3 separate regions of the Homo sapiens genome follow, and regions 1 and 3 are each linked to region 2. Evidence: fine-mapped expression QTL. A gene starts in region 2. Each other region holds a variant in brackets. All regions are shown on one strand. Distances are from middle to middle.

What was found. PIP is the estimated chance that this variant, and not a neighbour inherited with it, causes the effect.
Region 1: its variant is fine-mapped to the expression of RHOXF1 in gastroesophageal junction (GTEx, PIP 0.96).
Region 3: its variant is fine-mapped to the expression of RHOXF1 in whole blood (TOPMed, PIP 0.97).

The regions. Positions count from the first base shown.
Region 1 is chrX:119,197,700-119,200,460 of GRCh38, reverse strand. No RefSeq gene overlaps it. Among named protein-coding and RNA genes, the nearest start is that of PGRMC1, 37 kb to the left of the region's middle. The variant CA/A (reference allele first, on the strand shown) is at 1,531.
Region 2 is chrX:120,114,521-120,117,281 of GRCh38, reverse strand. RHOXF1 (Rhox homeobox family member 1) reads left to right here and starts at 1,369. Exons shown (of 3, transcript NM_139282.3): 1 at 1,369-1,817. The coding sequence starts at 1,420. All of the region lies in intron 1 of RHOXF1-AS1 (RHOXF1 antisense RNA 1), which reads right to left.
Region 3 is chrX:120,025,303-120,028,063 of GRCh38, reverse strand. No RefSeq gene overlaps it. Among named protein-coding and RNA genes, the nearest start is that of RHOXF1-AS1, 9.6 kb to the left of the region's middle. The variant T/C (reference allele first, on the strand shown) is at 1,230.

The sequences.
Region 1 (2,761 bases), 920 kb after region 2:
CCTTGTTTTTCTGATCCTTTTCCCCCAAGCACAGGGAAGGACTCTCTCTCTCTCTCTCTCTGGAATTTCCTTATCTGCCTAAGAAAGATTTTTTTCCAAAAGAAATGCAATTGTCTTAAGACCTCCACCCTAGGGATCTCATGAAATAACCAGGAAAGATCAACCACTGGAGAAGAGAAGAGACTGGGAGTCATCACCATGCCCAGACAAACCTTCATGGATTCTAAGAACGGCTCCCAGAGATTATCTGAGAGACTTTATTTGCATAATAAGACAACTTTGGTTCCTGTGCAGTTCTGCCTCTCATCTTTCCAAGGAGAATCATTTACAAACCATTGTCTGAGCATTGGGCCTATTTGTTCATCCATTTCCCATTCCCCTATGAAGAGAGCATTTAAGCCTCAACCATCTGGTCCCTCTTTGAGTTCATGTTTTGTATGACTTCCATGCACACATGTGCACATAATAAATTTGTTATGTTTTTCTCTTGTTAACTTGTTTTTTGTTATGGGGTGTTGGCTATGACCTTTTATAAATGGGGAGAAAAGGAATCACCCCCTTTCTGCCCCTACAATGGCATTAAAGGCTTATATAAGAAGAAAGATCTCAAATCAATAATCTAAGCTTCTACCTGAAAAACCTACAGAGTAAAATAAACCCAAAGCAAACCAAAAGAAGGAAATAATAAGGAGCAGACATCAATGAAATTGAAAATAGAAAAACAACAGAAAAAACAATGAAACCAAAAACAGATTCTTTGAAAAGATCAATGAAAATAACAAATCTCTAGCAACACTGACAAAGAAAAAAAGAAAGACACAAATGATCAGTACCAGGAATGAAACAGGGGATGCCAACACAGGCACTGAAGACCTTAGAGGAATAATAAGGAAGTACTTCCAACAACTGTACACATAAATTTGACAATTAAGACAAAATGGGGCCTGGCGTGGTGGCTCTCGCCTGTAATCCCAACACTTTGGGAGGCTGAGGCAGGTAGATCACTTGAGGCCAGGAGTTCGAGACCAGCTTGGCCAACATGGTGAAACCCTGTCTCTACAAAAAATACAAAAACTAGCCGGGTGTGGTGGTGCATGTCTGCAATCCCAGCTACTCAAGAGGCTGAGGCACGAGGATTGGTTGAACCCAGGAAGTGGAGTTTGCAGTGAGCCAAGATCGCGCTGCTGCACTCCAGCCTGGGCAACAGAGACAGACTGTCTCAAAAAACAAACAAACAAACAAACAATAAAAAAAAAAAACAAAGATGAAATGGAATGGATCAATTCCTTGAAAACCACAAACTACTAAAACTACCCAAAATGAATTAAATAGCCTGAATAACTCTATAATTATTAAAGAAATTGGATTAGTTATTTAAGACATTCCACAAAGAAAAGCCCAGGCCCAGATGGCTTCATTGGTAAATTTTAACAAATATTTAAATAGAAAATAACAGCAGTTCTACATAATTTATTTCAGAAAATAGAACTTACCTTATGAGGCCAGCATCACCCTAATACCAAAAACAGA[CA/A]AAGCTAGTCCAAAAACCAATCAATCAAGCAGTCCATCAGTCAGTCAATTAATCAAATTACAGACCAATATCTCTAACGAATATAGACTCAGAAATCCTCAACAATATATTATCAGATGGGATTCAGCAACTTATAAAAAGAATAATGCACTATGACCAAGCGGAGTTTATCCAGTAACATTTCTAGGAGTTCTTCAAGACCTACAACTCTTCAGTATAAAGAATGTCATTCTGACCTTGGCATACAAGGCTTTTTTTGAGCAAGCCCCTGCCTATCACTCTGCTCCATCTCTCATTGCTCCTGTTCAAGCTAGGGCAGTACCCAACAACTTGGAGTTACCACTGCCCTCCACACACATCCATCTGTTCTAAACCCCTCTCTGGCCCTATCCCAGACCAGCTCAGCCCAGTGCAGTCTTTGCCTTGCTCATTCTCATTCTTCTTTCCTAACTTGGCTTAAATGCCACCTCCTCCAGGTCCCCTTCCCTGACTTTCCAGGCTAGGCCAGGCCCCCTTCTTGGGGATCCCACAGTCTCCTGGGGCTTTTCTCTCTCTCAGATCCCTGGCCAAACTGTATTGGGATTGTCTGTCACTTGTTTGCCTTACCTATCTTTTTAACCCAGGGCCAACACAGAGTAGGTTTCTAGCACTGAGCACTTAAACAGTTGGGAGGCAAGGGGTCCCTCCTATAATTGTAGAGGGGAAAGGTGGTTAAACAAGGGGAACCACTGGAGTCCCCTCAAAGGCAAAGGGGCCAGTGACAGACAGACACCTGGAAATCCTCCTTTATTCCAGGAGGCTGACTGGGGGGTTATCTAAGCCTCATCTCTCCAACTGTGCCTTGGTTGTATGCTGCCCTTGCATCTGTGTGGAGGCAGCAATAAGCCTAGGGTCAAGACTCCAGATGACTCTCTGTTATCTATTTTAAGTAAGTGTGTGTGTGTGTGTGTGTGTGTGTGTGTGTGTGTGAGGGTGGGGGGTGGGTTGTATTAGTCCGTTCTCATGCTGCTAATAAAGACATACCTGAGACTGGGTAATTTATAAAGGAAAAAGATTTTAATGGACTCACAGTTCCACATGGCTGGGGAGGCCTCACAATAATGTTGGAAGGCCAATGATGAGCAAAGTCACGTCTTACATAGTGGTAGGCAAGAGAGAGCTTGTGCAAGGGAACTCCCATTTATAAAACCATCAGATCTTGTGAGACTTATTCACTACCATGAGAACAGT
Region 2 (2,761 bases):
TTTCTTATTTTATTATTTATTTTAAAGAAAAGGGGCCTCTGTCTGTTGCCCAGGCTGGAGTGCTGCCATGTGATTCTAGCTCACCACAGCCTCAAACTCCTGGGTTCAAGTGATCCTCCCATCTCAGCCTCCTGAGTAGCTGGGACTAGTGCAGGAGCCACTGCACCAGGCTCTTCAGGGTTTTTCTTCGTAATTGGGCTTATTGGGGTCAGTGGTAGGAAGGCTGTGTAGTTACAAGGCTCTGTGGAGCAGAAGTGGCCCCACATCCAGTAAGCTGCATATCCTTAAATCCCAAATCTCCATCCCAAGATTGGAGATTTTTGGCAGGTATGCCCTTACTGGTGCTCTTCCTATACCATCCCCGATTTTATTTATTTATTTATTTTTTGCTTGTCCTTATAGCACTCCATTTTGCCATGAGTACAGGTTTCTCTTGCATAGCCAAAGATATTCAGTCTCAGGCTAACAGATTCAGCCTCGTGTTTATTCTGTGTTGACTTTCTCAAAGGGTGCGTTAGATTTCTTGCAGAGCACATCTTACCACCCAGAATGCTCTGCATGCCCATCTCCAAGATCCCGATCCCAGCACTGAAGAGAGCATGGCAGCTCTGCTTTCAGTGCCTTTGCTGGAACTCTGAACAAGCAGCCCCCAGTCAATCATTTCTGCTTAATTAATAGCCCGCGCCCTGTGCATGCTGCCAAATATGGAGGGTCAGGCCATGAGATATTCTCCAAACTTTTACTCAAGGCGTCCTATGGTCACCGTGAGATCTCACCTCCCCTCTGAGCCCCCAAATCAGCTTTCCTCAGGGTAATAACTAGGCCCGAGTAGGGTGTAGTCAGCAAAGCTGCAAGCTGGGGCCCCATGTTGCATACATATATGCCTCCTATTGGCCCTTTTCTTCTCCACACTGCCCCTGTGTTTTGGCCACCCCACTCCACCCTCAACTGCCACCCCCACCCACGACCCATACCACACCCCTCACCCCCACCCACAACCCCTACCCCCACCACGCACCCTCCACCCACACCTCCCATCTCCACCCGCTACCCCCACCCCCACCATGTACCCCCACCGGCAACCCCCACCCCAACCCACAACCCCTACCCTCACCCGCAACCCCCACCCTCACTGTGCACCCCCCACCCTCCACCCACACCCCCATCCCCACCTGCACCCCACCCCACACTCACAACCCCCCACTCCCACCTGCAACACCCCCACTCCCCACCCGCACCCCCCAACTTCCCATCCCCCCACTCCTCTCCATTCCCTCTCTTGCTTGTGCGCATAAGCAAGTCCCACTCATTGCAACTGTAACCAATACCAAGCATGAGAACAGGAACTAGCTCCACCCTCTAACCCCCACTCCAGCTGCAGACGCCACGGAGTTTGTGCAGGGGCGCAGCGCTCCAGCCATGGCGCGTTCGCTCGTCCACGACACCGTGTTCTACTGCCTGAGTGTATACCAGGTAAAAATAAGCCCCACACCTCAGCTGGGGGCAGCATCAAGCGCAGAAGGCCATGTTGGCCAAGGAGCTCCAGGCCTCATGGGTAATATGAACCCTGAGGGCGGTGTGAACCACGAGAACGGCATGAACCGCGATGGCGGCATGATCCCCGAGGGCGGCGGTGGAAACCAGGAGCCTCGGCAGCAGCCGCAGCCCCCGCCGGAGGAGCCGGCCCAGGCGGCCATGGAGGGTCCGCAGCCCGAGAACATGCAGCCACGAACTCGGCGCACGAAGTTCACGCTGTTGCAGGTGGAGGAGCTGGAAAGTGTTTTCCGACACACTCAATACCCTGATGTGCCCACAAGGTAAGTGGCCTGCTCCAGGAGCCACGAGATCTCCAAGTTCGTTTCGAGGCATCTTTTTCTCTCCCTTGCCCCACCCAATCATGAGGAAAAAGCCACTGGGGGTCCTTGCCTGCCTTTGTGCTGGTGTGGAGGGGGATATTTACCTCCTGGGCATCAAGGTAAATGTTTTATTGCAATGTTTATGTGAATGAAACCTGGAAACTAGTCCGTGCCTCCCTTTTATAAAGATGTGGTAAAATACACGGAAATATGAAATTTACCGTCCAAACCACTTTTTAAGTATAGAGTTCAGTTGTGTTAAGTATGTTCACATTGTTGTGCAATAGATCTCTAGAATTCTTCTCATCTTGCCAAGCTAAGTCTCTATACCAGTTAAGCAACTCCCCTTTTCCCCCTTTCCCCAGCCCTTGGCAACCACCATTCTACTATTTTATGTCTCTATGATTTTGACTACTCTAGGTATCTCATGTAAGTAGAATCATACAGTATTTGCATTTTTGTCACTGACTTATTTCACTTAGCATAAGGTCTTCAAGGTTCATCCATATCGCAGCATATATTAGAATTTCCTTCCTTTTTAAGGCTAAATAATATTCCATTTTATAGATACAGGTGCACACCAACAGTACATGGGGGTTCCAGTTTCTCCACATCCTCACCAACACTTGTTATTTTCTGGGGTTTTTTACATAGCCATCCTAATGGGTGTGAGGTGATACTTCATTGTAGTTTCGATTTGCTTTTCCCTAATGATTAGTGATGTTGTGCATCCTTTCATGTGCTTAGTGGCCACTTGTATATCTTCTTTGGAGAAATATCTCTTTAAGTCCTTTACCCATTTTAAAATCTGAGTGGCTTTTTCTTTCTTTCTTTCTTTTTTTTTGGTTATTGGGTTGTAGGAGTTCTTTATACACTCTGGATATTAACCCCTTATCAGATGTGAT
Region 3 (2,761 bases), 89 kb after region 2:
TTGCATGTGGATATCCAGTTTTCCCAGAACCATTTCTTAAAAAGATTATTTTTCCCCATTGAATGGCTTTAATGCCCATGTTGAAAATCAATTACCCATACATATATGAGTGTATTCCTGGACTCTAAATTCTATTCCATTGGTCTATATGCTTATCCTTATGGTAGTATCCCATTGTTTTGATTACTGTAGCTCTGTAGTGTGTTTTAAGATCAGGAAGTGTGAGTCTTCTAAATGTTTAACTTTTTCAAGATTATTTTGGCAATTCTTGGTCACTTCAGTGTTCAAGTACATTTTAGGATCAGCTTGTCAATTTCCAAATGACGTTAGCTGGGATTTTGAGAGATTTCACTGAATCAATCTGGGGAGTAGATCAAATTAAACAGTATTGCCATCTTAACACTATCAGGTCTTTTAATACATGAACATGGGATATCTTTTTATTTATTTCAGCATATTTGTGTCTCTGTGACAACTCTCATGTTTTCTGTCCTGCTGCTGTTGGCAAAAATGGTTCACCAATCAGGGAGGCCAATACTTTCCCCAGGTGGGCTTTCTTGTGTGCGATCAGCTGCAGTGTTTTAGATAAAGACTGTCACAAGAAAAGGGACACTGTAGGCTGGGCGCAGTGGCTCACACCTGTAATCCCAGCACTTTGGGAGGCTGAGAAAGGCGGATCACCTGAGGTCGAGAGTTTGAGACCAGCCTGACCAACATGGAGAAACCCCCTCTCTACTAAAAATACAAAATTAGCTGGGCGTGGTGGTGCATGCCTGTAATCCCAGCTACTTGGGAGACTGAGGCAGGAGAATCGCTTGAACCTGGGAGGCAGAGGTTGCGGTGAGCCAAAATCGCACCATTGCACTCCAGCCTGGGCAACAAGAGTGAAATTCCTTCTGAAAAAAAAAAATGAAATCAAAAGGGACACTGTATTTTAATAAAGTTGAAATTAAAATAAAAAAATAAATAAGTCCAGAGATAGGTTAAACACTGGAGCTGGTTAATTCAGAGGCTCGGTCATGGGGTTAAGGGAGCATCCTTCTATTCTGCTTTGCCATCCTTCAGGCATCAGCAGGATGTCCTCCATCCTGCCTCCCAGGCTTCAAAATATACACGGGAATATCCAGAGGGAGCAGAGACACTCTGTTCCTAAGTGTCTCTCTCAGGATTGAGGGGAATTTGACAGGGACCCCTCCTCTTCTCCCACTCTCTTACTTCCAGTGCCCCTC[T/C]TGCCCCCTCCCCTGACACCACACCATCCCATCCTATACCATGGACAAGAACTGCATCATTCACCCACGGGTAAACCTGTCTCTGGCATCTAGCATGGGAACACCTTGCTTGTTTCAGTTTGATCATGACTTCCCTTGTGAGGACAGACATTGTAACTGACATTCTAGAGTCAATATGGTTGTCTTTTCAGCCCAGCAACTGAGCATTGAAAGGAAAGCTGGACCACAGAACAGCGGACCATTTATCATGTCAGGAAGTCATGATTTTGTCACTTCCTCCGAGCCACACACTGAGAGGATCATTAGCTTCTTTCTAAGGACAAGGGTCTTAGAATGATTCCAGGGGCCTCATTAAGCACATTTCACCTCAGAGATAAATCTGAAATACTCAAAGAACATTATTAGAAAAGCCAAGGTCACACAGCAGGCAGTGAGGCCAGGATGGTCACCCAATCACTATGGCTCCACCATCCATGCAAGGTAGTGAGAGGTGACAGCGTACTGGCAGCCCCTGCAGCCTTCGCTCCCTCTCGGCGCCTCCTCGGCCTCGGCGCCCACTCTGGCCACGCTTGAGGAGCCCTTCAGCCTGCCACTGCACTGTGGGAGCCCCTTTCTGGGCTGGCCGAGGCTGGAGCCGGCTCCCTCAGCTTGCCTGGAGGTGTGGAGGGAGATGCGCGGGCAGGAACCGGGGCTGCGTAAGGCGCTTGCGGGCCAGCGCGAGTTCCGGGTGGGCGTGGGCTCAACCTGCCCCGCACTCAGAGCGGCCGGCCAGCGCCACTGGCCCCGGGCAGTGACGGGCTTAGCACCCGGGCCAGCAGCTGTGGAGGGTGCGCCGGGTCCCCTAGCAGCGCCGGCCCGCCGGCGCTGCACTCGAATTTTCGCAGGACCTCTCGAATTTTCGCAGGACCTCAGCTGCCTCCCCGCGGGGCAGGGCTCAGGACCTGCAGCCTGCCATGCCTGAGCCCCCCTCCACCGTGGGCTCCTGTGCGGCCCGAGCCTCCCCGACGAGCGCCGCCTCCTGCTCCACAGCACCCAGTCCCATCCACCGCCCAAGGGATGAGGAGTGCAGGCACACGGCGCGGGACTGGTGGGCAGCTCCACCTGCCGCCCAGGTGCGGGATCCACTGGGTGAAGCCAGCTGGGCCCTGAGTCTAGTGGGGACTTGGAGAACCTTTATGTCTAGCTAAGGGATTGTAAATACACCAATCAGCACCCTGTGTCTGGCTCAAGGTTTGTGAATGCACCAATCAGTGCTCTGTGTGTAGCTAATCTAGTGGGGACTTGGAGAACTTTTGCGTCTAGCTCAGGGATTGTAAACGCACCAATCAGCACCCTGTCAAAACGGACCAATCAGCTCTCTGTAAAACAGACCAATCAGCTCTCCGTAAAATGAACCAATCAGCAGGATGTGGGTGGGGCCAGATAAGGGAATAAAAGCAGGCTGCCTGAGCCTGCAGTGGTAATCTGGTCTGGTAATGTTTCATAGTGTGGAAGTGTTGCGCTTTTCCTCTTTGCAATAAACTTTATTGCTG